4 linked regions of the Homo sapiens genome follow. The gene in region 3 interacts genetically with the main gene of each other region. Each region holds a gene or a part of one and is shown on either strand. Other genes may lie near its edges.

The links.
Region 1: changes in LIAS (region 3) and SEH1L together harm fitness less than expected from each alone (positive genetic interaction), as found in Homo sapiens cells (one large-scale study listed by BioGRID).
Region 2: changes in LIAS (region 3) and RPLP2 together harm fitness less than expected from each alone (positive genetic interaction), as found in Homo sapiens cells (one large-scale study listed by BioGRID).
Region 4: changes in LIAS (region 3) and HSCB together harm fitness more than expected from each alone (negative genetic interaction), as found in Homo sapiens cells (one large-scale study listed by BioGRID).

Annotation. Positions count from the first base shown.
Region 1 is NC_000018.10:12,952,219-12,959,970, forward strand, and holds part of SEH1L (nucleoporin SEH1), read left to right. Parts: intron 1-3,244; coding exon 3,245-3,391; intron 3,392-7,752. UniProt on the Homo sapiens protein: Component of the Nup107-160 subcomplex of the nuclear pore complex (NPC). The Nup107-160 subcomplex is required for the assembly of a functional NPC.
Region 2 is NC_000011.10:806,650-814,853, forward strand, and holds RPLP2 (large ribosomal subunit protein P2), read left to right. Parts: upstream 1-3,317; 5' UTR 3,318-3,390; intron 3,391-3,584; 5' UTR 3,585-3,585; coding exon 3,586-3,708; intron 3,709-4,947; coding exon 4,948-4,996; intron 4,997-5,031; exon of another isoform or gene 5,032-5,165; intron 5,166-5,885; coding exon 5,886-5,984; intron 5,985-6,110; coding exon 6,111-6,187; 3' UTR 6,188-6,227; downstream 6,228-8,204. Other genes in the region: PIDD1 (p53-induced death domain-containing protein 1), read right to left, coding at 2,298-2,303. UniProt on the Homo sapiens protein: Plays an important role in the elongation step of protein synthesis.
Region 3 is NC_000004.12:39,474,244-39,482,446, forward strand, and holds the end of LIAS (lipoyl synthase, mitochondrial isoform 1 precursor), read left to right. Parts: intron 1-2,819; coding exon 2,820-2,872; 3' UTR 2,873-5,263; downstream 5,264-8,203. UniProt on the Homo sapiens protein: Catalyzes the radical-mediated insertion of two sulfur atoms into the C-6 and C-8 positions of the octanoyl moiety bound to the lipoyl domains of lipoate-dependent enzymes, thereby converting the octanoylated domains into lipoylated derivatives.
Region 4 is NC_000022.11:28,748,539-28,752,038, reverse strand, and holds part of HSCB (iron-sulfur cluster co-chaperone protein HscB isoform 1 precursor), read right to left. Parts: intron 799-3,500; coding exon 751-798; intron 1-750.

The sequences.
Region 1 (7,752 bases), on a different chromosome or scaffold from region 3:
AAGTAGAAATTTTCTTTTTTTTTTTTTTTTGAGACGGAGAGTCTTGCTCTCTTGCCCAGGTGGGAGTGCAGTGGCGTGATCTTGGCTCACTGCAACCTCCGCCTGTTGGGTTCAAGTGATTCTTCTGCCTCAGCCTCCCAAGTAGCTGGGACTGTAGGCGTGCACCACGATGCCCGGCTAATTTTTGTGTTTTTAGCAGAGATGGGGTTTCGCCATGTTGGCCAGGCTGGTCTCAAACTCCTGACCTCAGGTGATCCTCCCTCGGCCTCCCAAAGTGCTGGGTTTATAGGCATGAGCCACTGTGCCCGGCCAAGTAGAAATTTTCATACCTTAAAAGTCATCCATTTTAAATGTACAGTTCAGTGAGTTTTAGTAAACTTACATAGTTGTGTAGTCATCACTGTAATCCAGTTTTAGAACTTTTCTCTCAAACTCAGAAATTCCTTTGTATCCTATTCCCACTCCAAGCCCCAGGCAACCACTGATCCATTTTCTGTCTCCATAGGTTTCTTCTCTCCTCTGCCCTCCCTCTCCCCTCCCCTCCCACCCTCTCTTCTCTTCTTTTCTTTTTTTTTTTTTTTGAGCTGGCGTCTTGCTCTGTCGCCCAGGCTGGAGTGCAGTGGTGCGATGTTGGCTCGTTGCAACCTCTGCCTCCTGGGTTCAAGCGATTCTCCTGCCTCAGCCTCCTGAGTAGCTGGGATTACAGGCGCATGCCACCACACCCGGCTAATTTTTGTAGTTTTGGTAGAGACAGGGTTTCACTATGTTGACCAGGCTGGTCTCGAACTCCTGACCTCAAGTGATCCGCCCGCCTTGGCCTTCCAAAGTGCTGGGATTACAGGCTTGAGCCACCATGCCTGGCCTGGTTTATCCTTTCTAGAAATTTCATAGAAATGGAATTTTGAAATACATAGTCCTTTGTGTCTGGCCACTTTCCCTTTGCATGTTTTGAGGTTCATCCATATTGTGTCATGTGTCAATTTGTTCCTTTGATACTGAGTAGTCCGTTGTATGTATATTGCCACGTTTTGTTTGTCTGTTCACCAGTTGACGGACATTTGAGTTGTTGTTTTTGGCTGTTATGAGTAATGTTAAGAACGTGCCATGTAAGTCTGTGTAGACATATATTTTCATTTCTTTTGGATAGATGCGTAGGAGTGGAATTGATGGGCTATATGCACTTAGCTTTCTAAGAAACTGCGAAACTCTTCCAAAGTGGCTGTGCCCACCAGCCATGTGTGAGGTTCCAGTTTCTCTACATCCTCACCTACACTCGATAATATCTGTCTTTTTTATTATAGCCATTTTAGTAGTTGAGAAGTGACCACAAAAATCATTGGATTTTGATTTGTATTTCCTTAATACCTCATGTTGATTATTTTTTCATATGCTTATTTACCATTCATGTATCTTCTTTTGTGAAAGGTCTATCCAAGGTCCCCCCCCCTTTTAAGGTGAGGTTAACTTATAAAATTAATAATTTCAGAGTAAACAATTAATTGGCATTTACTTCATTTACAGTGTTGTGTAACTACCACCTTTTTCTAGTTCTAAAACATTTTTATTATTCCAAAAGGAAACCCCATCTCTTGCTTTTAAGCCTAATATATTTCATATGTACTTTTCTATATCTTTAAAGGCTTTTTATTAACAGCCAATAAATATACCATTTTGCTTAACTAGTGGATATTTCAGTTTCCATTTTATTGTGATGAGCATCTTTGTGCAAACCTTATTCTTTAGATTGCATTTTACTGTAAATCTAATAAAACTTATCTGCCTTAGTGTGCATTTTTAATTTTATAGCCCTGTATAAGTAAGAATTAAAGATGATACAGAAAAGACTGGACAAAACAAGGTTAAAAAAAAAGGGTGCAAAATGTACCTTTAGTTGGTGACATTGTTACCATGTAGAAGTTATTGGTTAAACTATTTTTATGTTGTTGAATGTAAAAAATGTTAGCTATACAGTGTGAAACACATTTTCTGAATGTTATTTGTTATTATACAGTATTTTCCCTGAGAAGCACCTAGCAAATTCTTTTGATGGTGAAATTCTTTAAGACCTTTGTATCCCTTCTCCAGCCACCTCCCCTCCCACCCCTTGGCCAACAGGAGGGGTGTAAGGATTTGGGCTTCCCCATATTTGCTCTTCCTACAATAGTCTGTTATCGATAGACTGTATTGTCAGTTAAAATCATTTAAGCATTCTATGGCTATAATCTCTATATATTGTTAGACTTTTGAAGCAAATAATTTTTTTTTGGAGACAAGTTCTTGCTCTGTCACCCAGGCTGGAGTGCAGTGGCACAATCTTGGCTTACTGCAGCCTCAACCTTCCAGGCTGAAGTGATCCTCCCACCTCAGCCTCCCAAGCAGCTGGGACCGTAAGTGCATACCACCACACCTGACTAATTTTTTGTATTTTTTGTAGTGATGGCATTTTGCCATATTGCCCAGACTGGTCTTGAACCCCTGGGCTCAAGCAGTCTGCCCACCTCAGCCCCCTAAAGGGCTGAGAAGACAGGCGTGAGCCACTATGCCTGGTTGAATCAAATGAAAAAAAAGTATTTTTTTGATTGAGCTATAATTTACATATCATAATGTGCACCCATTTAAAGTGTACAATTTAGTGATTTTAAGTATATTCATTTAATTGGCAACCACCACCACTTCTAATTTCAGAACATTGTTTACCACCTCTAAAGGAAACCCTGTGCTCATTTAGCAGTCACTTCTTGTTTACTCTGCTCCCAGCCGCTGGTAACCACTAATCTACTTTCTGTCTGTATGGATTTTGGAGCAAATAAATCTAATGTTATTTATTTTATTAGGTGGGTATTTTCTGTAGAAAGAATTTGCAAGTAAAATGGTGGACTTACAGAATCTTTGTTTCAAAGGTTGGTTACGCTAAACTCTGAAGCAACTCTCCAACTATCAGCACTGGAAGTAGTCAAGTTTATCTGGCTAGATTTTTCTTTTATTAGTAAAATGTCAGAAGAACTGGACTTCAGAAGCATTACAATCCTAAATATAGAATGTCTTCTAAAGGTTAAAACATTCTGGAATTTAACTTTTTATTTACATGTTATGTTGATCAGTTTTCTTCTCTCATAGAAGTAAAACTATATTCTGTTTCCTGATGTAAAACCAGTGTTTATGAAATATGAATAAGTATTTAGGAAAAAAGAAGCCCTGGGATAATGAGTATCTGTTCTTTTCTTTTTTTTTTTTGATTCCCCAGACACATAGTGGATCTGTATGGCGTGTGACATGGGCCCATCCTGAATTTGGGCAGGTTTTGGCTTCCTGTTCTTTTGACCGAACAGCTGCTGTATGGGAAGAAATAGTAGGAGAATCAAATGATAAACTGCGAGGACAGAGCCACTGGGTGAGACATTTATTAGTATTCTGGGGACCGGGAAGACATGAGCAGCCAAGGAGCATTCATCCGAAGGCTACCTCAGATAATTGGTAAAATATCACCACTCCCCTCTAGTTTTACCAGTTCTAAAGTTCTTTCTTCCATGTTTTTTTCTTCCTTTTTTATTTCATTTTAACTTGGGTCTGAAGCAATACTTAGGAGCATCACTGCATTGTTTATAACTTTTATGATGAATCCAGAATATTTGCATTGTATTTGATTTTACCTATTAGTATATTTTATGATAGTAATATATGATTTTAAAGTATTCTGGCTCACTGCAGTCTCAAACTCCTGGCCCCACCTCAGCCTCCTGAGTTGCTGAGATTATAGGCATGAGCCACTGTGCCTAACTCTAAAATTCTTTTTTTTTTTTAACTTTAAACTCTTAAGGGTTAATAAAATTCTTTTTTTTTTTTTTAGACGGAGTCTCACTGTGTCACCCAGGCTGGAGTGCAGTGGCACAATCTTGGCTCACTGCAAGCTCCGCCTCCCGGGTTCACGCCATTCTCCTACCTCAGCCTCCTGAGTAGCTGGGACTACAGGCGCCCGCCACCACGCCCATCTAATTTTTTGCATTTTTAGTAGAGACGGGGTTTCACTGTGCTAGCCAGGATGGTCTCGATCTCCTGACCTCGTGATCTGCCTGTCGGCCTCCCAAAGTGCTGGGATTACAGGCGTGAGCCACCACGCCTGGCCAAGGGTTAATAAAATTCTTTAAATTTTATTTAAATTTAAATAAATTTAATGGGCCAAATTCAGGATGGGCCCATGTCACACGCCATACAGATCCACTGTGTGTCTGGGGAATCAAAAAAAAAAAAAGAAAAGAACAGATACTCATTATCCCAGGGCTTCTTTTTTCCTAAATACTTATTCATATTTCATAAACACTGGTTTTACATCAGGAAACAGAATATAGTTTTACTTCTATGAGAGAAGAAAACTGATCAACATAACATGTAAATAAAAAGTTAAATTCCAGAATGTTTTAACCTTTAGAAGACATTCTATATTTAGGATTGTAATGCTTCTGAAGTCCAGTTCTTCTGACATTTTACTAATAAAAGAAAAATCTAGCCAGATAAACTTGACTACTTCCAGTGCTGATAGTTGGAGAGTTGCTTCAGAGTTTAGCGTAACCAACCTTTGAAACAAAGATTCTGTAAGTCCACCATTTTACTTGCAAATTCTTTCTACAGAAAATACCCACCTAATAAAATAAATAACATGGCTAACATGGTGAAACCCTGTCTCTACTAAAAATACAAAAAATTAGCCCGGCATGGTGGTGGGTGCCTGTAAGTCCCAGCTACTCTGGAGGCTGAGGCAGGAGAATGGTGTGAACCCGGGAGGCGGAGCTTGCAGTGAGCCGAGATCACGCCACTGCACTCCAGCCTGGGCGACGGAGCGAGACTTGTCTCAAAAAAAAAAAAAATTCTATAAAAATTGTTTCTTTTGTTTTGTGGTTACTTTTGTTTTCTTAGGAAATATACTGTCCTCGGCCGGGTGCGGTGGCTCACGCCTATAATCCCAGCACTTTAGGAGGCCAAAATGGACAGATCACCTGAGGTCAGGAGTTTGAGACCAGCCTGACCAACATGGAGAAACTCCCCCTCTACTAAAAATACAAAAATTAGCTGAGCATGGTGGCACATGCCTGTAATCCCAGCTACTCAGGAGGCTGAGGCAGGAGAATCGCTTGAACCCGGGAGGCGGAGGTTGTGATGAGCAGAGATCGTGCCATTGCACTCCAGCCTGGGGAACAAGAGCGAGACTTCGTCTCAAAAAAAAAAAAATACACTCTCCTTTATCTACATCTGCTTTTATCGCTGTCTTTGCCTTATTGGATGTTTGAATTTGGGCAAGAACATAATATAATCTGTGTGCTGTTGAAGTTCCTCATCTATAAAGTGAAAACATTGAACTAGATTATATTTAAGACTCTTTCCAGCATTTTCATATGAAGGTATTATCATCTGCATGCTTTTTTTCCCCCTTTATGATTTGTTTTTTGTAATAGATAATCATGCACATGGTGTAAAATTCAAAAGAAACAAAAGGAAGTGTGTAGTGGGAGTGTCCTGCTATTACCCCTCACCTGCCCTCCCTAATGGCATGATACTACGTTAGAGCCAGTCACAGCTCATTGCAGTCTCAACCTCCTGGGCTCAAGTGATCCTCCCACCTTAGCCCCACAAGTAGCTGGGATCACAGGCATGCACCACAGGCTGATTTTTTTATTTTGTAGAGATGGGGTTTCACCATGTTGCCCAGGCTGGTCTTGAACTCCTGGACTGAAGCAATCCTCTCACCTCGGCCTCCCAAAGTGCTGTGATTATAGGCGTGAGCCACTACGAGGGCCATGATGCAATTTTTTATTGTGGTAAAATATGTATAACATAATATTCCTCATTTTAACTTTTTTTTTTTTTTTTTTTTTTTTTTTTTTTTTTTTTGAGACAGAGTCTTGTTCTGTCACCCAGGCTGGAGTGCAGTGGTGGGATCTCGGCTTACTGCATTCTCCGCCTCCGGGGTTCAAGCGATTTTCCTGCCTCAGTCTCCTGAGTAGCTGGGACTACAGGCATGTGCCACCATGCCTGGCTAATTTTTTTGTGTTTTTAGAAGAGACAGGGTTTCACCATGTTGGTCAGGCTGGTCACGAACTCCTGATCTCAAATGATTCTCCTGCCTTGGCCTCCTGAAGTGCTGGGATTACAGGCGTGAGCCACCATGCCTGGCCCATTTTAACTATTTGTAAATGGTATAATTCAGTAGAATTAATTACGTTCACAGTGCTGTGTACCCATCACTGTTATCTGTACTCAAAACTGTTCATCACTGCCAACATAAACTCCATATTTTTAAAGAATGCCTCCCCCTTCCTCCTCCCTCTACCCCCTATTCAACTGTCTGTCTATAAATTTGACTAGGTACTGCATGTAAGTGGAATCACAGTATTTGTCCATTTGCAACTGGCTTATTTCACTAAGTAAAATGTTTTCATGGTCTGTCCATTTTGTAGCATATATTAACTTTATTCCTTTTTATGGCTGAGTAATATTCCATTGTGTGTGTATACCACATTTTGTTTATCCATTCATTTGTAGATGGACCCTTGGGTTGTTTCTACTTCGTGGCTATTGTGAATACTGCTACTATGAGCATTGTTGTACAGATAAATGTTTGAGACCGTGCTTTCGATTCTTTTGGAAATATACCTAGGAGTAGAATTGCTGGCTCATATGGTAGTTCTATGTTTCACGTTTTTAGGAACTGTCAGACTTTTCCATAGCAGCTACACCATTTTACATTCCTACCAGCAATGCTCAAGGGTTCCAGTTTTTCCAAATCTTCATCAGCACTTGTTGTGGTGCTATTTATTGTAGCCATCCTAGTGACTGTGTTGTGAAGTGGCATCTCCATTGTGGTTCTGATTTGCATTTCTCTAATAATTACTGATGTTGACCTTATTTTCATGTGCTTATTGGTCAATTGTATGTCTTCCTGGGGAAAATACTATTCATATCCTTTGCCCATTTTTTTAAATTGGGTTTTTTGTTGTTATAGGAGTTCTTTATATATTCTGGATATTAATCCCTTATCTGTTATAGGTTGAGTATTCCTTATCCATAATGCTAGGATCCAGAAATGTTTTGGATTTTGGATTTTGGATTTTGCAATATTTGCATTTATACTTACCAGTTAAGCATTCGCCTACTTATTTATTTACTTAATAGAGTTGCCCAGGCTGGTCTTGAACTCCTGGGTTCAAGCGATCCTCCACCTTGGCCCCCCAGAGTGCTGGGATTACAGGTGTGAGCCACCGTGGCCAGCCCCAGTTAAGCATTCTAAATCCAAAAACTTGAAATTCGGTATGCTTCAATAAGCATTTTCTTTGAGCATCATGCCAGTGCTCAAAAAGTTTTGGAGTTTGGAGCATTTCAGATTTCAGATTTTTGGATTTGATATGCACAACCTGTAAATGATTTGCAAATATTTTCTCCCGTTCTGTGGGTTGCCTTTTTCACTCTTGATGGTTTCCTTTGATGCACGAAATTTTAAAATTTTGAAGTCTAGTTTATCTAAATTTTTTTCTTTTGTTTCCCATGCTTTTGGTGTTATATCCAGGAAAGCATTGCCAAATCCAGTGTCATGAAGACTTTCCCCAATGTTTTCTTCTAAGATTGTTATAGAATCCTCAATTCAGGCTTGTATCCCCAATGTGGAGCTGAGAGCAAACACTGAGTCACCGGTACTTGGAGATAGAGAAAGGTTTATTCGATTTGGCTAAAGCAAGAAGATGGGAGGGCAAGATCTCTCGAATC
Region 2 (8,204 bases), on a different chromosome or scaffold from region 3:
TCGGCTCACTGCAAGCTCCACCTCCAGGGTTCACACCGTTCTCCTGCCTCAGCCTCCTGAGTAGCTGGGACTACAGGCGCCCACCACCACGCCCGGCTAATTTTTTTGTATTTTTAGTAGAGACGGGGTTTCACCGTGTTACCTAGGATGTTCTCGAACTCCTGACCTCGTGATCCACCCGCCTCGGCCTCCCAAAGTGCTGGGATTACAGGTTTGAGCCACCGCACCCGGCCAAGAGATCTTTTTAAAAACCAACCACAGGCCTGATGCTGTGGCTTACGCCAGTAATCCCAACATTTTGTGAGGCTGAGGTGGGCGCATCACTTGAGGTCAGGAGTTCAAGCCCAGTCTGGCCAATATGGTGAAACCGTGTGTCTATTAAAAATACAAAAATTACCCAGGTGTGGTGGCAGGCGCCTGTAATCCCAGCTACTGGGGAGGCTGAGGCACGAGAATGGCTTGAACGCGGGAGGCGGAGGTTGCGGTGAGCTGAGATCTCGGCACTGCACTCCAGCTTGGGTGAGAGTGAGACTCCCTCTCAAAAAAAAAAAAAAAAACAGGCTGGGCGCTGTGGCTCGCATCTGTAATTCCAGCACTTTGGGAGGCCGAGGCGGGTGGATCAGGTCAGGAGATCGAGACCATCCTGGCTAACAAGGTGAAACCCTGTCTCTACTAAAAAATTAGCTGGGCGTGGTGGCGGGCGCCTGTAGTCCCAGCTACTCGGGAGGCTGAGGCAGGAGAATGGTGTGAACCCGGGAGGCGGAGCTTGCAGTGAGCTGAGATTGCGCCACTGCACTCCAGCCTGGGCTACAGAGCAATACTCCGTCTCAAAAAAATAAAAAAATAGGCCGGGCGTGGTGGCTCACGCCTCTAATCCCAGCACTTTGGGAGGCCGAGGAGGGTAGATCACGAGGTCAGGAGATCGAGACCATCTTGGCTAACACGGTGAAACCCCGTCTCCACTAAAAACACAAAAACTTAGCCGGGCGCGGTAGCAGGCGCCTGTAGTCCCAGCTACTTGGGAGGCTGAAGCAGGAGAGTGGCATGAACCTGGGAGGCAGAGGTTGCAGTGAGCCAAGATCACGCGACTGCACTCCAGCCTGGGCGGCAGAGCAAGACTCAGTCTCAAAAATAAATAAATAAATAGAATCCACTTATAACTGCTGCTCCTCAAAGTGTAAATTCAGGGCAACTTGAATCTATGTTCCCAGGACGCAATCCTCAAGCCTGGCCCACATAAACTACTCTGTATTTATATTAAATTTGTCTTAGCATCTACCTTTTAGGTAGGTACTTGAAATCTGAAAATACACTGAATGAAAAAAGCCAGACACAAAAGGCAAAATACTGTATTATTTCAGTCTTACGGGGTGCTACAGTTGTCAAAATCATAGGAAGAGAAAGTAGAATGTGTTTATCAAGGGTGGGGGAGCAGGGAATAGGGACTTTAATAGGTACAGAGTTTGTTTGGGATAATAAAAAAAAAGTGAGATGGGGCTGGGCACAGTGGCTCGTGCCTGTAATCCCAGCACTTTGGGAGGCGGAAGTGGGAAGATCACTTGAAGTCAGGAGTTTGAGACCAGCCTGGCCAACATGGTGAAACCCCGTCTGTACTAAAAATACAAAAATTAGCCGGGCATGGTAGTGGGTGCCTGTAATCCCAGCTACTCAGGAGACTGAGGCAGGAGAATCGCTTGAACCCAGGAGGCAGAGGTTGCAGTGAGCCAAGATCTCACCAGTGCACTCCAACCTGGGGAACAGTGGGACTCCTCAGAAAAAAAGAAAAAAAAAAGTTGGGGCCGGGCGCGGTAGCTCACGCCTGTAATCCCAGCACTTTGGGAGGCCCAGGTGGGAGGATCGCTTGAGCCCATGTTGGACAACGCTGTCTCTACCAAAAAATTTTAGCCGGGTGTGGTGGCACACGCCTGTGGTCTCCGCTAGGAGGCTGAGGTGGGAGGATCACCTGAGCCCAGGAAGTTGAGGCTGCAGCGAGCTGTGATCGAGCCACTGCACTCCAGGCTGGGCGACAGAATGGGGCCCAGTCTCAAAAATTACAAAATAAGAAAAGTCCCATTGTTCCCAAGATGGTTTCCCGCCTTTACCCCAGATGTGTGACCCTGAGCAAAAAAACCTTTCTGTACCCAACTGCCTCATCTATAAAATGGGGGTAATGATAACGAGGCCACAGAAGGCGACTGTGAAGTCGAGTTCCAGTGCTTGACGTATACACACCCCAGGGTTTGCACTGCTGTTAGAGCCCAACGGGAGCTGGCGCTGCCTGCTAACACGGTAGATACCTGCATCTGACCCTGTTCCTGGTGCTCGCCCGGGATATTGGCAGGGATGGCTCCTTCTCATCTCTCAGCTCAAGCTTTCTCAGGCTGCCCAGAGGACCAAGTCTCCCTCTGTCCCTGTCCTTCGGATCGCCTCCCTATTCACCTCCTGCGTCCTCGCACAAGAACTCAAGTCCTTAGGAGGCAGGGCCAACCCTGTTCCCTCCCAGGACCCGAGAATGTAGCGGGGTCCCTGAGGTGCTGATGTCCACATGGACACCGAGGTCAGTTCCGGGCCAAAGCGGCCAGCGCAGGGGCTGACCACTCAGACCTCACTCCTCGCAGGGGTGAGCGGGCGACGCTGCCTCACGTCATTGTCCTGCCCTCCAAGGCCCGCGCTCGTCCTCTGACAGGATGCCCTGACACCGCAGTGCGGGGGCGGCCTCCCAGATAGGGCCGCAGTCGCTAAGTCCGAGGCGGCTGGCTCACCTCACTGAGCCCGGCTGGACGTGGGACCACCGGTCGCCGCGGCCAGGGAACCACCAAGGAGTCAAGGCGAGCCTACCGCCAGCAGCTTCTGCCCGGGCCCACGCGCCGTTCCGGGTAGGCCCGCGGCGCAGGCCACTTCCGGCAGCGGTGCACCATGGGACTTGCAGTTCGCTGGCAAAGGTTGAGTCCCGGGCGTGGCGGCCGCGCTCCATGTTGGGAGCTGTAGGCGCCGCGTGGCATGCTGGGGGTGCTAGGTACCGAAGGCAGATGCCGTCCCTTTGGACTCGCTTCGTCCAACGCCCCCACGAGTTTCGGTGGCCCTTCGCCCCACGCTATAAGAGCAGTCACTTCCGGAACTGCTGCCCTTCGCCTTTGCCGCGAAAAGTGCCTGACGGGGGCTGGGAAGGGGGAGGGGGAAGGAGTCAACGACTCCCTCCCCGTCGTCATTGGCTGAGCGCCTCGTGACGTCACTCTGAGGCGCCTCATGCGGCGCCGCGCACGGGTCCCAGAGCCTTCTGGGTAGCGGTTTAACCCCGCCTCTTGCGTCGGCGCCTTCCTTTTCCTCCCTGTCGCCACCGAGGTCGCACGCGTGAGACTTCTCCGCCGCCTCCGCCGCAGACGCCGCCGCGTGAGTGTGGTGACCGGGCCCGGGGTGCCGGCTGGGGACGCGGAGTCCGTGGGGATGCGGGGTGGGCGGCGGGGTATTTTTGGGACGGAGGCCTACGGGCCGAGCCACGCGCGGCCTCGCCCGGCGGCCCCGGGATGGGCCGGCAGGAGGCCGCCGGGGTAACTCCGCCGTCGCGTCCTCTCCGCCCGCCTCAGGATGCGCTACGTCGCCTCCTACCTGCTGGCTGCCCTAGGGGGCAACTCCTCCCCCAGCGCCAAGGACATCAAGAAGATCTTGGACAGCGTGGGTATCGAGGCGGACGACGACCGGCTCAACAAGGTAGCGGCCGCCCTTGCCCCGCAGCCGCCGTGGGGCCCCAGTGTCCCATACAGGCGATTCTTCTGCCTGATCCGGCCACATGCTGGAGGGTTCGGGGAGAGGCTCGTTTCAGTCTAGTTGGCGATTTCTTGGATAGAGAAGTAAGCCGGGCGGAGGTCGGGCGCGGTGGCTCACGCCTGTAGTCCCAGTACTTTGGGAGGACGAGGCAGGCGGATCACCTGAGGTCAGGGGTTCGAGACCAGCCTGGTAAACATGTCGAAACCCCATCCCTACTAAAAATACAAAAATTAGCCGGGCGTGGTGGTGGGTGCCTGTAGTCCCCCTACTTGGGAGGCTGAGGCAGGAAAATCGCTCGAACCCGGGAGATGGAGGTTGCACGGATCGTGCCACTGTACTCCAGTCTGGGTGGCAGAAGGAGACCCTGTCTCAAAAGGAAAAAAAAAAAAAAAAGCAGGGTGGGTACGAGGCAAAATCGTGATTAACAAGCTTTGGAAGTTTAATACCAGTGAGCTGCGTAAGATTGCGTTAAAAAAAAAAAAAAGCAGTCCTGGCGCATGGCTCACCCGGCTTTGGGAGGCCATGGCGAGTGGATTATTGGAGCCTTGAAGTTCGAGACTGGTCTGGAAAACATTGCAAGACCCGGTCTCCACAAAAAAAAAAAAAAAAAAAAATGGTTGGAGGCAGTGGTGCACATCTGTAGTCTCAGCTACTCATGAGGCTGATGCGGGAGAATCATTTGAGCCTTAGAGGTCAAGGCTGCACTGAGTAGTGATTGTGCCACTGCAGTCTAACAGAACCAGGCCTCGTCTCTAAAATACAATAAAAAATTAGCCAGGCTTGGTTGCTCATGCCTGTAGTCCCAGACTGAGGTGGGATAGTCACTTGAGCCCGGGAGGTCAAGGCTGCAGTGAGATCCTACCACTGCACTCCAGCCTGAAGTCAAAGTCAATTTCATTGCCAGTTTATTTTGCCAGTGTTGAAGATACCTATGAGTAGTCAACATAAGTAGTGAGATGCCCTGTGTCCTTTTGTCAGTCCTAAGTCTAAGAAAGCTAGTGTCCATTTATTTTTATATCACTTCCCAAGTGAGGCTGGTGGCTCCCTTTGGGCAGTGCAGTTCTGGAAACTTCAGGGCCTATTCCCATGTGGGGAACCCAGTCCTGCTGTGACTCTGGGAGGGAGAGGGCCGGGGATACAATCGTACATTCCTGGTAACAGCCCTGTGATTGTCTGCTTCAGGTTATCAGTGAGCTGAATGGAAAAAACATTGAAGACGTCATTGCCCAGGGTGAGTTGATGTGGACGGGCTTTCGTTTGTTTTCATGGTCCATCCTAATCCCTGCCGGTCCATCTGTGGCCTGCCAGGTTTCGCTTGTGGACCAGAGCACCCTAGAAGCCTCACCCGAGGAGTGAGCAGGGCTCCAGTGGGCTCACGTCATGGGCACTTCTAGACACTCTCAGGAGCAGGGCAGCAGGGGGCACCCTGTGTTCTCAGCAGACGTTTAGGTGGCCCTGCCTCTTAAGCCTGACTGCTCCTAGCCCTGAGGCCATTCCCCAGGATTTGTCTGAAGCTTGGTGTCTGGAGAACTGAGTTCACGTCAGCAGTCCTTACCACATGCTTTCTGTGAGGGGGTTGGGGGCAGGGACTGAGGGTGCCAGGGATGTCCATAGGCTCCTTGCCTCTTTGTTGGGCAGATGGTTTTTTGTTGGCTTCAGCTGAGCTGGTGGAACTTGTTTGGAAGTTGAGCTGTTGGGGCAGCTGTTCTTGTCTTCCATGCATGTGACCACGACAGGGCCAGCTCAGCAAACGGGCCAAGCCATGAACACAGCGTTGTGGCCAGAGATGTGGATACTGGGGCAGCACACTCATTCCCTACCTAGTTATGAACATGTCTGTCCAGTGGACCTCTGAGGGTGGAGGTGGGGAAATTGGGCAGGCAGGCAGTGTGGGCCTAATTCCTAGAAGGCAAGTCCCTGGATAGGAAAGGTGGGGAAGAGAAGTCCCCGTTGAGGAGTGGCTCAGGGAGGGAGTGTTCAGGAAGAACGGGAGACACTGGCATATGGTGGGTCCAGATATGTTGGGTGCCATGTGCCATCTCTGGTGCCATCTAACTTCCCTGTGGAACAGCCTCCCAGGCTGGGCAGCTGCTCTGGTCTCACCTCTCTGCTTTCTGTAGGTATTGGCAAGCTTGCCAGTGTACCTGCTGGTGGGGCTGTAGCCGTCTCTGCTGCCCCAGGCTCTGCAGCCCCTGCTGCTGGTTCTGCCCCTGCTGCAGGTAAGTGGTGGCCTGGTGAGTGGGCAAGGGGCTGGGGCTCAGACGGTGTTGCTGCAGTGGGGTCTTCATGGGGGGACTGGCCTGGCACTTGGGCAGTGCTCACCATGCCTCTCCTCTGTTCCACAGCAGAGGAGAAGAAAGATGAGAAGAAGGAGGAGTCTGAAGAGTCAGATGATGACATGGGATTTGGCCTTTTTGATTAAATTCCTGCTCCCCTGCAAATAAAGCCTTTTTACACATCTCTCAAGTATTCCATGAGCACTTTGTCAAGGGTGGCCTCTGCCCAGGTTCTTATCCAAGAGGGCAGGTGTGGAGCTGAAGTGTGGGCAACATGGTATTGGGGAAGCGTTTCTGGTGCAAAATGAGCATGAGGAGGGGAGTCTGGGCATCACAGCTGCCTGGGGTCCCTTCCTGTGGCCTTGAGCAGTATCCTAGCTCCTGAGTACACCCCAGAAGAATGCGAACGGGCTGGGCACAGTAGCTCGTGCCCATTATCCCAGCACTTTGGGAGGCCGAGGAGGGAAGATCACTTGAGGCCAGCAGTTTGAGACCAGCCTGGGCAAATAGCAAGACCCCATCTCTAAAAAACAACCTAACAAGGCGTGGTGTGCACCTGTAGTCCCAACTATGGGAAGTTGAGATGGAAGGATCACTTGCCCAGGAGGTTGAAGTTAACAGTGGGCCGTGATAGTGCCACTGCACTCCATCCTGAGCAGCAGAAACCCTGTCTTGAAAAAAAAGGACAGCAGAGAAGCTGATTTCAATGGAGTTTGGGTAATCAGGGCTCTGTCTTTGGGGTGGCTTGGTGCCTGGACTTGCAAGGACAGGATTGGTAGCCCCTGGGCTCTACAAATGGATGCAGGAAGTGAGCCCAGCTTGGGGGTGGCAGACGCCCCTGGGTTTCCCTGCAGGGGTCATGGCTCCGCCATAATGCCCTGAGCAACTTGGGCAATCACTCCTCAGGCTTGTTTTTTTGCCGATCACAGCCCACCCCTGCCTTACTGGGCAGATGTGCTCAGGGCTTGTGGGAAGTGACCACAGGGCCATGTGCTCACTGAACTAGGTCCTTTGGGGATGGGCCTGCCCTCCCCCGACAGGCTCTGTCCTGGAATACAGGGCTAAGGACAGAGGCCATCACCCTCCCCTCCCAGCCTCTCTGCCCTCCTGGCCTTACTCCGTACGCAGTCTCCCAGGCCTCAGGGTCTTTGCCCGCCAACGTAGGCACCCAGAAGATGGTCTGCCACTCCCACCCTAGGCTTGGGGTCAGCAACCCACCCGCTGGCTTTGGTGTGGGGAGCACCTGCTGTGTGACCACCTTAGTTCTGGGAGGATAAATAGGCTATAGCACAGAAGACAGTTGGGGTGGCTGGGGGAGGCCTCCCTCAGATGGGAAGGCAAGACCTGGAGGAAGGCAGAGTCCCTGGAGGGGAAGGAATGTGGATTGTTGGAGCCAGGGAGCCACAGAAAGTACTGAGATGGAGGGGGACCCAAGATGCTTTTTATTTATTTTGTTTTTTTTCTTTTTGAGATGGACTTTTGCTCTTGTTACCCAGGCTGGAGTGCAAGTGGCACACTCTCCACTCACTGCAACCTGCGCCTCTCTGGTTCAAGTGATTCTCCTGCCTCAGCCTCCTGAGTAGCTGGGACTACAGGTGCCTGCCACCAGTCCCAGCTAATTTTTTGTATTTTTAGAAAAGATGGGGTTTCACCATGTTGGCCAGGCTGGTCTGGAACTCCTGACCTCAGGTGATCCGCCCGCCTTGGCCTCCCAAAATGCTGGGATTACAGGCATGAGCCACTGCGCCTAGCCTTTCTTCTTTCTTTCTTTTTTTTTTTTTTTTGAGACAGAGTCTCGCTCTGTCGCCCAGGCTGGAGTGCAGTGGCGCCATCTCACTGCAAGCTCCGCCTCCCGGGTTCACGCCACTCTCCTGCCTCAGCCTCCAGAGTAGCTGGGACTACAGGCGCCCGCTACCACGCCCACCTAATTTTTTGTATTTTTTTTTTTTTTAGTAGAGATGGGGTTTCACTGTGTTAGCCAGGATGGTCTCGATCTCCTGACTTCGTGATCTGCCCGCCTCGGCCTCCCAAACTGCTGGGATTACAGGCGTGAGCCACCGCGCCCGGCTACCTTATTTATTTATTTTTTCCAGACGTGATCTCACTCTGTCGCCCAGGCTGGCGTGCAGTGGCATGATCTCGGCTCACTGCAACCTCCACCTC
Region 3 (8,203 bases):
CAGAGCAAGACTCTGTCTCAAAAAAAAAAAAAAAAAAAGAATAAATAGGCCAGGCAAGGTGGCTCATGCCTGTAATCCCAGCACTTTGGAAGGCAGTTGGATTACTTGAGCCTAGGAGTTCAAGGATGCAGTGAGCTATGATCGTGTCACTACAGCTCCAGCCTGGGTGACAGAGCAAGACACTGTGTCTCAAAAATAAAATAAAAAAAAGAAACAGCTAGGCCAGGTGTGGTGGTGTGTGCCTATAGTCCCAACTTCTTGGGAGACCGAGGCAGGAGGATCGCATGGGCCCAGGAGTTCAAATACAGCCTGAGCAACATTGTGAGATCTCATCTCTTTATTTTTTATTTTATTATTATTATTTTTTTTTTAGATGCAGTCTCTCTCCATCGCCCAGGCTGGAGTGCAGTGGCACAATCTTGACTCACTGCAACCTCTGCCTCTCAGGTTCACGGCATTCTCCTGCCTCAGCCTCCTGAGTAGCTGGGACTACAGGTGCCCGCCACCACGCCTGGCTAATTTTTTGTATTTTTAGTAGAGACGGGGTTTCACCGTGTTAGCCAGGATGACCTCGATCTCCTGACCTTGTGATCCGCCCACCTGGGCCTCCCAAAGTGCTGGGATTACAGGTGTGAGCCACCGCACCCGGCTGACCTTGTCTCTTTAAAAATAAACTAGGTATTGGCCAGGCGTGGTGGCTAATGCCTGAAATCCCAACACTTTGGGAGGCCGAGGTGGGCAGATCACAAGGTCAAGAGATTGAGATCATCCTGGCCAACATGGTGAAACCCCATCTCTACTAAAAATACAAAAATTAGCTGGGCATGGTGCTGCGCACCTGTAGTCCCAGCTACTCGGGAGGCTGAGGCAAGAGAATAGCTTGAACCTGGGAGGCAGAGGTTGCAGTGAGCCAAGATCCTGCCACTCCACTCCAGCCTGGCGAAAGAGCAACACTCTGTCTCCAAAAGAAAAAATATATATACAAAAATTAGCCGGGCATGGTGGTGTGTGCCTGTAGTCCCAGCTACTTGGGAGGCTGAGGCAGGAAAATTGCTTGAACCCGAGAGACAGAGGTTGTGGTGAGCCAAGATCATGCCACTGCACTCCAGTCTGGGCAACAGAGCAAGACTCTGTCTCAAAAATAAATAAATAAGTAAATAAATAAATAAACTAGGTATTTTTTTTTTTTATCTAAAGTGGTGATGTTTTAAATGATTGCTTTATATATTGGGGTCTAAATCTTAAATATGTTTAAATTAGACAAATTCTATTTGAAAAAATTAATGCTCCAGTATTAGTAATATTCTGTATGTTCCTAGTTCCTATAAAGACATTTAAGGCCGGGTGCAGTGGCTCACGCCTGTACTCCTAGCACTTTGGGAGGCCGAGGCGGGTGGATCACTTGAGCCCAGGAGTTCAAGACCAGCCTGGGCAACATGGCAAAACCCCATCTCTACAAAAATACAAAAATTAGCTGGGTGGCTGAGTTGCTGGGTGGTGGTGGGCACCTCTAGTTCTAGCTACCCAGGAGGTTGAGGTGGGAGGATCACCTGAGCCCAGGAGGTTGAGGCTGCAGTGAGCTGTGATCGTGCCACTGCACTCCAGCCTGGGTGACAGAATGAGACCCCGTCTCAAAAATAAATAAATAAAAATAGTAATTTAAAACATTTTAATGAACTAGTAGCTCATCATAGTTTGAAAACCCAAGAATTTGATTCAGCACTGAGTGACAGAATGTGGGGACTTTGAAAACCAGTAATTGTAAGTGATTTAGTCTTCAAGCAGCACTGCTGGCAAGCTAAAAATACATGTGAAGGATAGAACCACTATCAGCTTCTAGAATGGTTAGAGTAATGTCCTTTGAAAGGAGTTTTTCTTTTGCTAAAGAAAAATTTCTAACATAAAAGGAAGTAAATTATGAACTTTCTGATGCTTTCTAAATTACCAGGAAAAGATCAGATTCTGGTATATGATGAGCATTAGACTAAAATGATGGATTAGGGTCTGATAAAGTTGGTGCTACTCCCACGACATTTGGAGGAGGTATGGAGCAGCATGGATTACTTGGCTGGGTTATGAGCCTTGGGATTTGCAGAGATTATATGTAGATAGACTCATCACAGTTCTACTCATATGTAAGATGACAAAGAGAAGTTAATCAGACTCCTCATAAAATCAGGCCTCTAGTGCTGCACTCTACCAATAAGCATTGAGTCATGCTGTAAGAGCAATAGACTAAATGGAACACTAATGGCCTAAAAAGAGAATGTGCCCTCTAAGCTGCTAACTTATTGCGTAGGCACAACTCAGGCGGTGGGGAGAAAGCCCATTACAAATGAAGAGCTCTTGCTTCCCTAGAGGGGAATAAGCTAAAGAGATTCCATCAGATGCGTCTGCTCAGCTGCAACGAGATCTGTTTTATAAACATCAGATCCAGCCTAATAATGTAGCAAAATTGCTCTTGGAAATGAATTTTGCCAAGAGCAATACTTTGACAGTGATGAGGGATAGATAGTGCACATAAAGTAGAATTAATGTGCAGACCCATATATACAGTAGGGTCACCCTTTGTAATATTGGCTTACTAGAAAGAATAATAGTAGGAGACTCTAGTCATTATTGCTGGGGAGAAAGGCCAAAGATAATAGGGGATATTTAGGTTAGAAAAATATTGCCATTGAGGTTTGAGAAGAGAGAAGTGCCAATAAATACAAAAGTCTTCTTTAAAGGGGGAACACCAAAAATATAATTCTGAAATAGTTGTCTCACTGTTATTTACTTTAAATTGATATTAATGTGTTTTCCTTTTTCCTAAATAGGTGAATTTTTCCTGAAAAATCTAGTGGCTAAAAGAAAAACAAAAGACCTCTAAAACTTCAACAAGACCTTCAAGATCACAGAAATTTTTAAAATTTGATTCCAGTTAATAACAGAGGTGGTGCCAGAATGCCTGGACTGCAGTGGATGTGCCCCACCTCTTTGCTTAAAAAAAAAAATGTCAATAGCCAGGCATAGTGGCTCACGCCTGTAATCCCAGCACTTTAGGAGGCCAAGGCGGGTGGATCACCTGAGGTCAGGAGTTCGAGACCAGCCTGGCCAACATGGTGAAATCCTGTCTCCACTAAAAACACAAAAATTAGTCAGGCGTGGTAGTGGGTGCCTGTAATCCCAGCTACTCGGGAGGCTAAGGCAGGAGAATCACTTGAACCTGGGAGGGGGAGGTTGCAGTGAGCCAAGATCGCTCCATTGCCCTCCAGCCTGGGTGACAAGAGCAAAACTCCATCTCAAATAAATAAAAAGGAAAAAAAAGTCAATAAACTGTACAAATTTAATTACAGTAATTCATTTGGCTTTTAGTGTATCTTCTTTGTCCCAATTAAACAGTTGCTTGCTGTGATGTAATCTTAAAATATCTTTGTAAGAATTTTCTTTTAACATAATTTTAAAATGCATTAAAAACATGGCATGGTGGCTCACACCTATAATCCCAACATTTTGGGAGGCCAGGGCGGGTGGATCACTTGAACCCAGGAGTTCGAGACCAGCCTGGGCAACATGATGAGACCTTATCTCTACAAAAAATTAGCCAGACGTGGTGGCACGCACCCGTAGTCCCAGCTACTCAGGCTGAGGTGAGAGGATCACTTGAACCTGGAAAGCAGAGGTTGCAATGAGCTGAGGTGGTGCCACTGCTCTCCAGCCTGGGCGCTACAACTGCTCTCCAGACTCTGTCTTGAAAAAAAAACCCAAAAACTTCCAGAAGATTTTCCAATCCACTGTTAACATCATTACATTTCATTTATGAAAAATAAAAACTTCATTTATGTTACTGTGATGAAACAGTCAACATAGATTGAAACTCATCAGTTTAGCATTTCATTCAACTTTAGCATTCATTCAACGTAGATTGAAACTCATCAGATTAGCATTTGTCCTTGTAATATTGGAATAATTTAGAAAGGCTTAAGAGTGAATGTTGGCCAGATGTGGTGGCTCATGCCTGTAATTCCAGCACTCTGAGAGGCCGAGGTGGGCAGATCACCTGAGGTCGGGAGTTTGAGAACAGCCTGGCCAACCTGGTGAAACTCCATTGCTACTAAAAATAAAAAAATTAGCTAGGTGTGTTGGCAGGTGCCTGTAATCCCAGCTACTTGGGAGGCTGAGGCACGAGAATTACTTGAGCCTGTGAAGCAGAGATTGCAGTGAGGCGATATCGTGCCACTGCACTCCAGCCCGGGCAACAGAGTGAGACTGTCTCAAAAAAAAAGTAAATGTTGATTTTTTACATTGGTGTGACTACTTCAGAACCTGCAAAATAGTTTTATGCTGATTACATTTAGTCCCTCTGAAAACACCAAGGCCATAATGCTGCCTAAGACATGGAAATAGAACCTAGAAATATTAACCCTTATTTGTATAGTAGCTTGCTAAATCCACATGCCCTATTCCTTTCATTTCTCACATTGGTTGTATTATATGATGGTAAAGGCCTGAGAAAGGAATTTCCTTCCAAAATACTAATAACTCAGATTCATCTTTTGACTGAATCCTGCCTTTCTACTTTTTCTGCATATCTAAAAGGACACTTTTAGGTGGCCATGTTGTAAAATATGTAAAGTGGATAGCCAATTCTGTTTTGAATTCTTATAACGAGCCAGTATTATAAAAGTAATGCACATCCTTGCCAGGTGTGGTGGCTCACGCCTGTAATCCCACCACCTTGGGAGGCTGAGGCGGGTGAATCAGTTGAGCTCAGGAGTTTGAGACTAGCCTGGGCAACACAGTCAGACCCCCATCTCTACCAAAAATACAAAAAATTAGCTGGGTGTGGTGGCACATGCTTGTAATCTCAGCTATTTGGGAGGCTGAGGCAGGAGAATCACTTGAACCTGACAGGCAGAGGTTGCAGTGAGCTGAGATCACATCACTGTACTCCAGCCTGGGTGACAGAGACCGTGTCTCAAAAAAAATTTTTTTAAGTAATGCATGGGCCGGGCATGGTGGCTTAATGCCTGTAATTCCAACGTTTTGGGAGGCCGAGGCAGGTGGATCACCTGAGGTCAGGAGTTTGAGACCAGCCTGAACAACATGGTGAAACACTGTCTCTACTAAAAATTAAAAAATTAGCCAAGTGTGGTGGCGCATGTCTGTAATCCCAGCTACTCAGGAGGCTGAGACAGGAGAATCCTTGAACCTGGGAGGCAGAGGTTGCAGTGAGCTGAGATCACACCATTGCACTCCAGCCTGGACAACGAGTGAAACTCCTCAAAAAAAAAAAAAAAAAAAAGTAATGTATGTCTTTATAGATGCTAGTAAATTTTGGGATGCAAATTTAACCCTACCAACTTTCTTTTGTTTTGAGACAGTCTCACTCTGTCAGGCTAGAGTGCAGTGGCGCGATCTCAACTCACTGCAACCTCTGCCTCCTGGGTTCAAGTGATCCTCCTGCGTCAGCCTCCCAAGTAGCTGGGATTACAGGCGCACACCATCACGCCCAGCTAATTTTTGTATTTTTAGTAGAGATGGGGTTTTGCCGTGTTGGCCAGGCTGGTCTCAAACTCTAGGCCTCAAACGATCTGACCGCCTTGGCCTCCCAAAATGTTGGGATTTGTGAGCCACCACCGGGCCTAACCCTACCAACTTAAAATAGAAACATCTCAAGCTACCTTAACTTATTTTACAGGAAAAAAATGGATTACTTTTCAGGCTAATTTTGTGACATTTCTAGATATTATCTAATAGTTAGGCCCTTTGCACAGTGTAGGCCAATGGCAGGTAAACATTTGTTAGCAGGAGACTCATTTGGTGAAATAAAATTCTCAGCCGGCGCGGTGGCTCACGCCTATAATCTCAACACTTTGGGAGGCCGTTGCGGGCGGATCACCTGATATCAGGAATTGACACCAGCCTGGCCAACATGGCAAAACCCCATCTCTACTAAAAATATAAAAAATTAGCTGGGTGTGGTGGCACGTGCCTGTGGCACTGAGGAGGCTGAGGCACAAGAATCGCTTGAATCCAGGAAGCAGAGGTTGCGGTGAGCCGAAAATGCACCACTGCACTCCAGCATGGGCAACACAGTGAGACTGTTGTCTCAAAAAAAATAAATGAATAGGCCGCGCTCCCGCCCAGGGAGGATGCGCCGACGCCCCGAGCGCCCGGCCCTCCGCAGCAGCCCGGCAGACTGCCTCTGTCATCAGGACCCTCCGTCCACGTCCCCTGTGCGGCCAGCGTCAGAGCCATGGCGATGGAGGAGAGGAAGCCCGAGACCGAGGCAACGAGAGCACAGCCGACCCCTTCGTCATCCACCACTCAGAGCAAGCCTACGCCCGTGAAGCCAAACTATGCTCTCTAAAGTTCACCCTTGCTGGCCACACCAAAGCAGTGTCCTCCGTGAAATTCAGCCCGAATGGAGAGTGGCTGGCAAGTTCATCTGCTGATAAACTCATTAAAATTTGGGGGACTCATATGATGGGAAATTTGAGAAAACCGTCTGGTCACAGCCTGGTCGTCAGATTCTAACCTTTTTGTTTCCGCCTCAGATGACAAAACCTTGAAGATACGGGACGTGAGCTCGGGAAAGTGTCTGAAAACCCTGAAGGGACACAGTAATTATGTCTTTTGCTGTAACTTCAATCCCCAGTCCAGCCTTACTGTCTCAGGATCCTTTGATGAAAGTGTGAGGATATGGGTTGTGAAAACAGGGAAGTGCCACAAGACTGCTAGCTCACTCCGATCCAGTCTCGGCCATTCATTTTAATCGTGATGGATTCTTGATAGTTTCAAGTAGCTATGATGGTCTCTGTCACATCTGGGACACAGCCTCAGGCCAGTGCCTGAAAACGCTCACTGATGATGACAACCCCTGGTGTCTTTCGTGAAGCTCTCCCCGAAGGGTGGATACATCGTGGCTGCCACGCTGGGCAACACTCAAGCTCTGGGACTACAGCAAGGGGAAGTGCCTGAAGACATACACTGGCCACAAGAACGAGAAATACTGCATATTTGCTAATTTCTCTGTTACTGGCGGGAAGTGGATTGTGTCTGGCTCGGAGGATAACCTTCTTTACATCTGGAAACTTCAGACGAAAGAGATTGTACAGAAATTAGAAGGCCACACAGATGTTGTGACCTCAACAGCTTGTCACCCAACAGAAAACATCATCACCTCTGCCGCGCTAGAAAATGACAAAACAATTAAACTGTGGAAGAGTGACTGTTAAGTCCCTTTGCTCCCACATGCGATAGACCATCAGGAAGTTGACCCGGATTGGCAAGAAACATGATGTCTCGGAGGCGGTCCCCTGGGTCTGTGCCTGGGGGTCAGGACCGGGCCTGATTTGAGCCTCCTTTTTGAAGATGATTTGGCCGAGTGTGGACCACCGGAAAGTTCTAAAAGTTGCTGGTGACATTTCTTGCCAATTCTCTAACACTGTCTAGGGAAGAGTTCCTAGTCTGTTGTGTTCAAACAGAGTCAACAAAAATTTTTAATTTTTTGTTACAAAAGGGTGAAGTTCAATTTTAAAAATAAATAATAAATATAATAAAAATCTCATGGAACTTCAATGTAAAATAATTAAAATGGCATTTTATTAGCAGTGTATGTTAAAGTTTCAGATTTGTAACATTTACTCTGTAAATAAAAATAGGGAATAAGTAAAATGAAGCAATTTTGATACATATGCAAAATTGGGATTTATGGATAACAGTTGCTGTCTTCAGCCTCAAGAGTCTACTTATTTGTTTTGGTTGCACAGTATTGAGAACAATTCTAATATAGCTAAATAATAGTAAATTTCAGTTAATAGCATAGCTTAAAAAGAAAAAAATAGTAAATAATTTTTAAAAATGGTAAAACACCTCATCTTGGAATGTCTGGATACTTTCCAGTTAAATTTAATACAGAAACTTGAAAGAGGAATAGCAGGAGATGTTTTTGTTTTGTTTTGTTTTGTTTTGTTTTTGAGACAGAGTCTCGCTCTGTCGCCCAGGCTGGAGTGCAGTCATGCGATGTGGGCTCACTGCAACCTCCACCTCAAGTGATTCTCGTGCCTCTGCCTCCTGAATAGCTGGGATTACAGGCACGCACCACCATGCCCAGCTAATTTTTGTGTTTTTAGTAGAGACAGAGTTTCACCATGTTGCCCAGGCTGGTCTGGAACTCCAGGACTCAAGTGATTCACTCATCTCGGCGACTCAAAGT
Region 4 (3,500 bases), on a different chromosome or scaffold from region 3:
GCTCACTGCAACCTCAGCCTCCCTGGTTCAAGCAATTCTCCTGGCCTCAGCCTCTTGAGTAGCTGGGACTGTAGGCACATGCCACCACACTCAGTTAATTTTTGTATTTTTAGTAGAGCTGGAGTTTCACCATGTTGGCCAGGCTGGTCTCAAACCCCTAACCTCAAGTGATCTGCCCACCTCACCCTCCCAAAGTGTTGGGATAACAGGCGTGAGTCACTGTTCCCAGATCACTTTTTTGATATAGTTTGTTTCTCTAGAAAGGCAGAAATGTTGATTTTTTTTTTTTTTTTGAGATGGAGTCTCGCTCTGTCACTCAGGCTGGCGTGCAGTGGCACGATCTCAGCTCACTCCAACTTCCGCCTCCCTGGTTCAAGCGATTCTCCTGCCTCAGCCTCCCAAGTAGCTGGGACTACAGGCGTTGTGCCACCACACCCAGTTAATTTTGTATTTTTAGTAGAGACAGAGTTTCACCGTGTTAGCCAGGATGGTCTCAATCTCCTGACTTCGTGATCCGCCCGCCTTAGCCTCCCAGTGTTGGGATTACAGGCATTAGCCACCGTGCCTGGCCAGAAATGTAGATTCTTAAAGGCATTTTTTTAAAGACAGAAATGTAGACTCATAAGTATTTCATATCTCCCTATATAGCTATCATAGGAAGGTATATAATAGCTAGTTATTGAATGAATGGCTATGCTTCAGTGCTTGAAATTTCTTTCCATATTTAAGAAAGTGAAGAAAAGAAAGTACCTTGTTCAAAAGCACTGCTCACATTGTCAGTAAATTCTTTCTGTTTAGCTGAAAAAGAAAACCATTCTGTTAATTTTTCCATTGAAATAGACTCATAATATGAAGACAATACTTAAACTTTGTAATCATGCTGGTTTGAACACAACAAAGGAGGAAGTTTGTATTCAAGGGTAAGGCTTCATAACCTTTGTCTCTGTGTGTACCATGATGGCAGCTGCTGTTTAGCACAACTCTGGTTTACCCTAATAACACTGTTTTTCCAACCATGAAAGGTCTAAGGAGCAATCACCAAGGCTTATAAAATGGCTATAGAATCAGTAAAAAAAAAAAAAAAAAAAAAAAAGACAAAGATATACTTTGATTATCTCCACGAAACAGTTTGGGTCTTCGACATTTCAGCAAGGAGAACATTAACATGCTGGGAACACCTATCAGTAAAGCATTACTGAGTGTTTCCGGCAACCACTTGCAAACTGTATAGCCTCTCAGGAAAATGAAAACATTTACATCATGTTGTGTCATAAGGGAGAAGATGCCAAACAAAATAAAGCAGCAGCTATCTCATATTTCTCGTTTCCTTGTTAGAAAATGAGGAATTTTCCAGTAATCTCATTTTCCAGATATAAATAGTGTCAGTTATTTATATGGTGTCGTCTTTCGAAGCACTGTCAAATACATTATATCCGTAAGGCAGGAAATGACAGGTATTGGGGGAATTGTCCCATGGGTGATGAGTGGAAGAGCTGGGAACAGAATCCAAGTCACTTGACTCCCAGTCCGGTGTTTGAAACTCATCTCTCAGGTAGCAGTGTGGTGTCCACAAAAGAACAACAGACTAGGAACCTGGAGGTTCTTAAGCCCTGACCCTAAAATTAACTAGCTCTATGCCCTTGAACATTAATTTTACCTGGGCCATAGCAGATACCTTACAGGAGAAAATTTAGGAATTAATCTAAATTAAGGTCAGTGAGCTGCTCAAAGTCAAATGTTTACTATAGGGCTAGAATAAGTGTTTTTTTTTTTTTTTTTTTTTTTTTTTTTGAGACAGTTTCGCTCTTGTTGCCCAGGCTGTAGTGCAATGGTGCGATCTCGGCTCACTGCAACCTCCACCTCCTGAGTTCAAGCAATTCTCCTGCCTCAGCCTCTGAAGTTGCTGGGATTATAGGTGTGTGCCACCATGCCCGGCTAATTTTGTATTTTTAGTAGAGACAGGGTTTTGCCATGTTGGTCAGGGTGGTCTTGAACTCCTGACCTCAGGTAATCTGCCCATCTCAGCCTCCCAAAGTAATGGGATTATAGGCATAAGACACCAAACCTGGCCTAGAATACATGCTTTTACGTGCTTTATCTCATTTAACTTGATCCCCACAACCACCAGTACTAATATTATCTCCACGTACAGATGAGGAAATTGAGGCTCAGAGGAATGAAGTCATTTGTTCAAGGTCACGCAAAGTCAGTAGCACGCTGCCCTCACTCCAGATCTTCATGCTGCCCTGACGTCTAAAATTGGGCAGCTGAGCCCACTGACTGCAACTCCTGAGTTTCTCTTATCCCTACAACCCAGTCCTAATGCTGTGAACATATCTCCAAGCTGACGGTCCCCTCACCACAAATTCTATATTACTGCTTTAAACATCTTTTCTCATTACTGTTTGCTCATTTAGTAAATACCAAGTTCCTTTTAAACTATAAGTACTTTTCTGTGAGCTGAGGATGTGAGGGAAGCAAAAAGTAGACATGATTTCTCCTGCAGAACTTCCAGTCTAATGAGGGAGGCTGATATTGATCAATTAATGTCACATAGAACAGTAAAGTTATAACTGTGATTAGTCCTACAAAAGAAATAGCCACTACTAATAGATAGCTTAAAAAGGCTTCTCTGAGGAAGTGATGATTGCCTTCAGATCTGAAGAAGGAGGGGTTAACTTAAATGGGGCGGAGGAGAGGAGGGTTTCAGGCAGAAGCAACAGGCCCTAGGGTAGGAGGGTGCCCAGTATAGATGAGGAACTGGAAGTGGTCATTGTGGCTGGAGTGGAGAAGGCAAAACAGAGAGAAGCAGAGGCCACGGCATCCGGGCCCTGTAAGGGATGCTAAAGAGTTTTAGAGCAGTGAGAAGCCACTTAAAAGTTTTTTTTTTTTTTCTTTGAGACGTGTTTTCGCTCTGTTGCTGAAACTGGAGTGCAATGGTGCAAACACGGTTCACTGCAGTCTCCACCTCCTGGGCTCAAGTGATCCTTCTGCTTCAGCCTCTCGAGTAGCAGGGACTACAGGCATGCGCCACCACATCTGGTTAATTTTTAAATTTTTAATGGAGATGGGGGTCTTGCTATGTTGACTAGGCTAGTCTTGAACTCCTGGGCTCAAGTGATCCTTCCACTTCAGCCTCCCAAAGTGCTTGGATTACAGGCGTAAGCCATCACACCTGGTCAATTGAAATAAGGCCAAGAGTAGTGATTAGATTTGGGTTTTGGCCGGGCTTGGTGGCTCACACCTGTAATCCCAGCACTTTGGGAGGCTGAGATGGATGGATCACCTGAGGTCAGGAGTTTGAGACCAGCCTGGGCAACATGGTAAAACCCCGTCACTACTTAAAAAAAATAGAAAAATTAGCCAAGCATGGTGGCACGCACCTGTAGTCCCAGCTACTTGGGAGGCAGAGGCAGGAGAATAGCTGGAACCTGGGAGGCGGAGGTTGCAGTGAGCCGAGATCATGCCAGTGCACTCCAGCCTGGGCAACAGAGCAAGAC